Linked DNA regions of Homo sapiens. The protein of the gene in region 2 purifies or fractionates together with the protein of the main gene of each other region. This does not show direct contact. Each region holds a gene or a part of one and is shown on either strand. Other genes may lie near its edges.

Region 1 (3,822 bases), on a different chromosome or scaffold from region 2:
AGAGACAAAGATATCTCTAATTTGGGGCCTGAACAACTGGAAGGATAGAACTGACATTTGCTGAATAGGCTAAGACATAGGAGGAACAGGTCTGGTGAAGCAGCTTCAGAAGTTCAGTTTTGGACAGGTTAAGTTTGTGATGAATATCAGACATCCAAGTAGATACGACAGATACACAGTTGGCTACATGCAACAGAATTTCAAGGAAAGAAGTCTGAGATAGAAATAAATTTGAAACTTGTACGCCTTTAGATGCTATTTAAAGCCATAAAACTGGATGAGATCACCAAGAGGGTGGGTGCAGACAGAGAAAAGGTCTAAAGACTGAATCCTGAAACACAACATTTAGCCATCAGGGACATAAGGAGGAACTATCAAAGTTGCTGGTGAGGTAGGAGAAAAATCAAGAGAGAATAGTATCTTAAAAGCCAAATGAAGAAAGTACTTGAAGGATGAAAAAAAAGGATTAAATTGGCTCATGCTACAGATAGGTCAAAACAAGAACTTGGAAATAAATCAAACAACAAGCAGGACATACGCACAGAAGTATTAAATATGGCATTGTTTATTAGAGAAGAAAATCGGAAACAACCTAAACATCTCCCAATATGAATTAAGTAAATAACAAATACACTCAATGGAATATCACACAATTATGAAAAAATGATAGTTATTAAGATCACATATACATGACTATATTATTCTATGTAAAAAAAACAGATATAATTAATAGATATTATAAAATCACAACCATATAAAAATACATGCTTTTTTTTTTTTTTTTGCCAGGCGTGGTGGCTCACGCCTGTAATCCCAGCACTTTGGGAGGCTGAGGCGGGCAGATCACGAGGTCAGGAGTTCGAGACCAGCCTGGCCAACACAGTGAAACTCCGTGTCTACTAAAAATACAAAAACTAGCCGGACATGGTGGCGCACACCTGTAGTCCCAGCTACTCGGGCGGCTGAGGCAGGAGAATCGCTTGAACCCAGGAGGTGGAGGTTGTCGTGAGCCGAGATCACGCCACTGTACTCCCACCTGGGCAACAAAGCGAGACTCCGTCTCAAAAAAAAAAAAAAAAAAAAAAGCATCTTTTTTTTAATTAGAAGAAAACATACCAAAACAAAAAGTGTTAGGGTTGTGTGAAGATTAATATTTTTTCTCTTAATTTTTCAAATGAAAACAAAAAAAAAAGCTTGCCCTAAAAGGTTAGCCTGGTGTGTCTACTACAATTACATAGATTTGCTCACAGACTATTCTTATTTACAAAAGCAAAGACTGAACACAGATTAATAATAATAGAAAGTCTTAACTATTTCCTCATCTAAATGAAACAAAAAACTGAAGAATTTGGATTACTGGCCAAATATTTATACATCCCTTCACACTTATCATTAACACATTTTGTTCTAAATTTTCCTATTTTGCACTAAACTTACTGGGGCAGAATGAAAGTACATGATCATGTACATTTTTGACACCAATTATAAGGGCAAACTACTGTCTTGAAGGAGAAAGGGGAAGTGAGATCTGGTTTTAAGAAACTGAAATTTCTTGGCCAGGTGCGGTGGCTCACGTCTGTAATCCCAGCACTCTGGGAGGCTGAGGCAGGCAGATTACCTGAGGTCGGGAGTTCGAGACCAGCCTGACCAGCATGGAGAAACCCCGTCTCTACTACAAATACAAAATTAGCTGGGTGTGGTAGTGCATGCCTGTAATCCCAGCTACTCAGGAGGCTGAGGCACAAGAATCACTTGTACCCGGGAGGTGAAGGTTGCAGTGAGCAGAGATCTTGCCATTGAACTCCAGCCTGGGCAACAAGAGCAAAACTCCGTCGAAAGAAAGAAAGAAAGAAAGAAAAGAAAGAAAAGAAAGAAAAAGAAAGAAAGAAAGAAAGAAAGAAAGAAAGAAAGAAAGAGAAAGAAAGAAAGAAAGAAACTGAAATTTCTCAACCTCCATTTGCATCTAACCTTCCAGAAAGAGATGTGGATCAAATACCTAACTGTCCCAAATACCTAACTCCATCTAAAATTCTTAGGCCAATGCCTCTGGCACAATACTTTATCATGTCTCATAATTTTTCCACCAAGTCCACCGTCGACACATTTAAGACGTGAATGATTGCACACATTTTGCACTATATCTTGATAATTTGGGTAATGTATTTTAAACGTTACTGATGCACAAGGCAGGGTTAAGGTACAGTGTTGGGCATTGTGATTCTAGGCATGCATATAATCTTTCATATCAGTGTTTTTTTGTTTTGTTTTGTTTTTTGAGATGGAGTTTCACTCTTTTGCCAAGGCTGGAGTAAAGTGGCACAATCTTGGCTCACTGCAACCTCTGCCTACTGGGTTCAAGTGATTCTCCTGCCTCAGCCTCCCAAGTAGCTGGGATTATAGGCGCCCGCCACCACGCCCGGGTAATTTTTGTATTTTTAGTAGAGATGGGGTTTCACCATGTTGGCCAGGCTGGTCTCAAACTCCTAACGTCAGTTGATCCACCAGCCTCGGCCTCCCAAAGTGCTAGGATTACAGGTATGAGCCACCAGGCCCAGCCAATATTAGTGCTTTTGAAAATAGTAATTTTTTTTTTTTTGAGATGGAGTCTCGCCCTGTCACCCAGGCTGGAGTGCAGTGGTACGATCTCGGCTCACTGCAACCTCCGCCTCCCAGGTTCAAGTGATTCTCCTACCTCAGCTTCCTGAGTAGCTAGGATTACAGGCATGCACCACCACGCGTGGCTAATTTTGTTTTTTTCTTTTTTTTTTTTTTTTGACAGAGTTTCGCTCTTGTTGCCCAGGCTGGAGTGCAAAGGCACAACCTCGGCTCACCACAACCTCCGCTTCCCAGGTTCAAGCGATGCCTCAGCCTCCCGAGTAGCTGGGATTACAGGCATGTGCCACCACACCCGGCTAATTTTGTATTTTTAGTAGAGACAGGGTTTCACCACGTTGGCCGGGTTGGTCTCGAACTCCTGACTTCAGGTGATCAGCCCACCTTGGCCTCCCAAAGTGCTGGGATTACAAGCGTGAGCCATGGCAACTGGCCTAATTTTGTATTTTAGTAGAGACGGGGTTTCACCACGTTAGTCAGGCTGGTCTCAAACTCCTGACCTCAGGTTATCAGCCCGCCTTGGCTTCCCAAAGTGCTGGGATTATAGGTGTGAGCCACAGCTCCCAGCCAAATTTTTGTATTTTTTGTACAGCAGGGCTGGTCTCGAAATCCTGACCTCAAGTGATCCGCCTGCCTTGGCCTCCCCAAGTGCCAGGATTACAGAGTAAGCCACTTCGCCCAGGCCACACTGCAAATTTTTAAAAGGAAAAGATTTTGGGTAATTGCTTAATGCACAAATTAAGAAATGTTTGTTCCTAATGTTTACCAGATTAAGCAATAAAAGATATAGATTAAGTAGTAATTACCACAAAAAGTAGAAATAAAGTTATAGAACTTGAGAGTTAGAAAGAATCTTAGATCCAGTAGTTCTCAAAGGTACCTAAAATTTACTGGCTGATGAGGGCATCAAAGGCAGATTCCCAGGCTCGTTGTCCAGAGATTTGGATTCAGTAGGTCTAGTGGGGTACCCATGAATCTGTATTTCAAAATGATCAAGTACAACCCCATATTATTACAAGTAAGAAAACTATGTTAAGTAACCTATTTGCCCGGAATCATATAGAATCTAGGTCTCATTAACTCCCAACAGTGGTCTTCCCACTATACCTCTTAAACTACATACTTTATAGTTGAAGGAACTAGGACAAAGAAAAAGTTATTGGTGTGTTATTTGAGTCAATAAACAACCCTAGAATATTCCTGGTTGAA
Region 2 (3,822 bases):
TTTTACAAACAAATCAGATCAAGGGAAGAAGGGATAAATAATAAAGACTTAATACAGCCCCACTGCCTTTCCAAAACATAATTTTCCTTCCAAGTTTATTTTCATCTGTATCTTGGGTTTTAGAATTTTTGCGTGAAGGGAATTCTGCTATTGCTCCAAAAGACTTGCCTTCTGTGATTGTCAGCCACCTGCTTTCTAAATTCAAATACAACAGAAAGAGTGGGGGTGAACCGCAAGCCTTTGCTTTTCTCCCCCCTTTTCAAAGGCATTGATGAAAGCTTTTTCTATGTCTGTGTATTGAGGCCATATGTTCCCTCTCCCCACTATCGAAAGCAACAACTATACGTTAAAAGGAAAAAAGACAGCCTGTAAAAAGAATAACAGAAAACACGTCTGGAACTCAGATAAACTGATAGATGACCTTCAAATTCCAGGATTTTCTCCATCTTTCAAAGCCCAGTATAGGTTCATGTAGTCACTCCCATTTTTCTAATGTCCCACAATGGGAGTTACATGATGCTCAAGAATAAACGAGAAGACTGTTGTCAGTTCAACAATATTCCTAAACCTAAATAACCATCTGCAACCATATTTTGAAGGCTATGAGCCTTTCCTTTTTCCTCAACACTGTATCCCCTTCCTGGCAATGTGCCTGGCACAGAAGAAATGCTCAGTAAATATTGGCTGAACAAACAGATGAATGTCTATAGCCCACTTTGCTGGGAGAAGTGGAAGGAGGAGAGATTCCATTGCATATTAGAATTCTGTGTCTTAATTATCTTCAATTAACTCAATCATAAGAATGTTTAACAAACAAACAAAAAGAACATTCCTCTTCCTTTTCCCTCCCACTGCGTATTTGGATGCTGCTTTCTTTTCACTGTATCTCTCCATGCAAATTAATTCAGATAAATAAGCTCTAACCAAATTACCAACTGATGTTGGATATCAGCTTTGAATAGCTTAAAAAGCATCTCCTTCAGAGCAGGTCAGTAGCACTTTGTCTATCATTTGCTATCAAGCTATCTATCCTAATAGCTTGGCAGTCTTCTAAACAATTTACTGCATTTCTGCCACCAGTGAGCAAGATAAGCTGTTCTGTCAGGCATTATCTTTGACAATCTTACATAGCTACAGTCCAGAATCTGTTTCTTTGTCAAGTCTAGGCATATTCAAGTTTCAAAGACAAACGAAAGGCAACATAAAAAATACCAGCCTTGGCCATCTGGTTAGACTTAATCAGATTTTGTAAGCACTTGGTCAATATTTTTTCCAACTAAAATGAATACTGCTATTTCAGTATGTTACCAAAATGAAGACACAAAAGGGAAACCAATATGTTAAATCATTCTCACCAGTGATGAAGCTACTACTTCCAGTGTCAACTGAGTTTCATATATAATATTAAGGCACAATGAGCATCGCCCCAAGAGTGCTCAAGACACAGGAGGGCTGTAGAGTGTGCCAAGAAACTGGTGACAGTTCGCTTTATATTTTCCTTTTCTTATGATATACACAAAAACTACAGAGAGCTGCTATGGGGTAGGTGAAGAAAGCTACCTCATCTTGGCTTTTCATTGTCAACTGGAAGTTACTTTGATGACACTTCAAACACAACCATCTTCATCTGAACTTTGGTGGCCACCTTGAACTCTTCTCTCCTTTACATTCTAGATTCACAACCGCTGTGGATCCTCCTCTCATAATCTCTTTTGGAATTGTAACTTCTGATCACCTCATTGGATAGTTATTTTAAATGCCTCTTCATTGATAACCTTGTCTAGGCTCTCTCCTCTCCAATCTATTTTATACAATCCAGATGGTTTTTTTTTTTTTTTTTGATAGGAAGTCTCACTCTGTCTCCATGCTGGAGTGCAGTGGCGAGATCTCAGCTCACAGCAACCTCCTCCTCCCAGGTTCAAGCGATTATCCTGCCTCAGCCTCCTGAGTAGCTGGGACCACAGGCGCACGCCACCACGCCCAGCTAGTTTGTGTGTTTTTAGTAGAGACGGCATTTCACCATGTTGGCCAGGATGGTCTCAATCTCTTGACCTCATGATCCGCCCACCTCAGCCTCCCAAATTGCTTGGATTATAGGTGTGAGCCACCACACCCAGCTGGTTTATTCTTAAGAATAAAAATTGCAATAATCAATCAAAGACAGCTACCACTTAGGAGCTGCTATGTGCCAAGCGTTCTAAGTGCCCAGTGGAAATTATCTTATTTAATCCTTACAACAACCTAATGAGGTATACTGTCGTTATTCCACTTTTTAAATGAGGAAAACAACAGGCTGGTAGAGGATAAGTAACTTGCCTAAGGGATAGTGTCTGTTTTTGATCTTTTGGATTCTGTCAGAATTCAACGTCCCTACCTTTGCCAGACAACTCTCTGCTTTCCCAAAACACAGCATATAATGTCCCCAAATATGCAATTGCCAAAATCCATCTCTAATAAGGCAACCCCATACCACTGGTGCCCAGTATAAACACCATCATCAGTCACATACATAGCACTTTTATGTGCCATACTCATCTCAGGCTCCTAAGTTGGTTTTTTGTTTGTTTTATTTTCGAGATGGAGTCTCGCTCTGTCGCCCAGGCTACAGTGCAGTGGCATGATCTCGGCTCACAACCTCCACCTCCCAGGTTCAAGCAATTCTCCTGCCTCAGCCTCCCGAGTAGCTAGGATAACAGGCATGTGCCACCACACCCGGCTAATTTTTGTATTCTTAGTAGAAATGGGGTTTCACCATGTTGGCCAGGCTGGTCTCGAACTCTTGGCTTCGTGATCCACCCACCTCGGCCTCCCAAAGTGTTGGGATTACAGGCGTGAGCCACCGTGCTCAGCTCTCAGGCTCCCAAGTTTTGAGAATGACACTGTACGACCCATGGTTCCCTACCCAGGTATCCAAACCCTGGCCTCCCAGGTCACATCCCATTCTGGCCCATTCTTTCCCCACCCTTCTCCTAGCTCCTGTAGCATGAATTGTCATTTAAGTCTCAGCACCTCAAATGAGATTATGTTCTTTGCATACAAACACTAGTCTTTACCATTCCTTTGTTTGCCACATAATTAGTAATAAGGGTAGGCACAAAGAGGAGAGATTCCATAAATATTTGTTGGCATGATGTGAATATAAATAACCATTTAAGAATATGAAAAAGAACGTTTCAAGTCCTTATTTTGTACTGTAAGATTTTTTTAATGACATTTCATGGTCTAACCATGTCTACTTGTATGTTTTATTCAATACCTAGCCAATTTTGGCTACTTATTTAACTGTCACTCTAACAATAACAATAACTTATGTGTTCTCATTTCTGCTATATTTTAAGGTTTCAGAGTTTATTACACACACACACACACACACACACACACACACACGCAACAGACCAACAGTTACAGGTAACAAGTCTCACAGCGTCAAGTCAACATGCTTGCCAAATACCATCTCACCTTTTGAAATACAATTAGTGATTCTCTGATGAGGGGGATAGTGTCTTAATAATCTTTGTGTCTTAATAATCTTTCCATTTTGTGTCTTAACAATCTTTCCACTTTGTCCTTTTCATGACCATTCCTCAATGATTAATTTATCATTGTCTTACTTTTTCTTTTTTTAAATCCTTAAGGCTGTTACTGCCAACACTATTTTATTGCCAATACTATTGTATTTACTTAAAGCTGAGCTTATAAAGACTCTCACTCTATTAACCCAGCTGTGGCAAATGGCATTAAGGTACCACGTTTCTGATTCACTGTGCTACTGACAATCATCACTGGTCTGTTATATTGGCTTTAGGATCTAGGCTGCAGCTA

Evidence for each region.
Region 1: the proteins of ARMH4 (region 2) and BMPR2 purify together in Homo sapiens (affinity purification with mass spectrometry; one large-scale study listed by BioGRID and IntAct). This does not show direct contact.

Annotation. Positions count from the first base shown.
Region 1 is NC_000002.12:202,382,625-202,386,446, reverse strand, and holds part of BMPR2 (bone morphogenetic protein receptor type-2 precursor), read right to left. Parts: intron 1-3,822. UniProt on the Homo sapiens protein: On ligand binding, forms a receptor complex consisting of two type II and two type I transmembrane serine/threonine kinases.
Region 2 is NC_000014.9:58,145,494-58,149,315, forward strand, and holds part of ARMH4 (armadillo-like helical domain-containing protein 4 isoform 1 precursor), read right to left. Parts: intron 1-3,822. UniProt on the Homo sapiens protein: May modulate immune response and may play a role in inflammation. Down-modulates STAT3 signaling throught direct interaction with IL6ST, resulting in the inhibition of phosphorylation of STAT3 at 'Tyr-705'.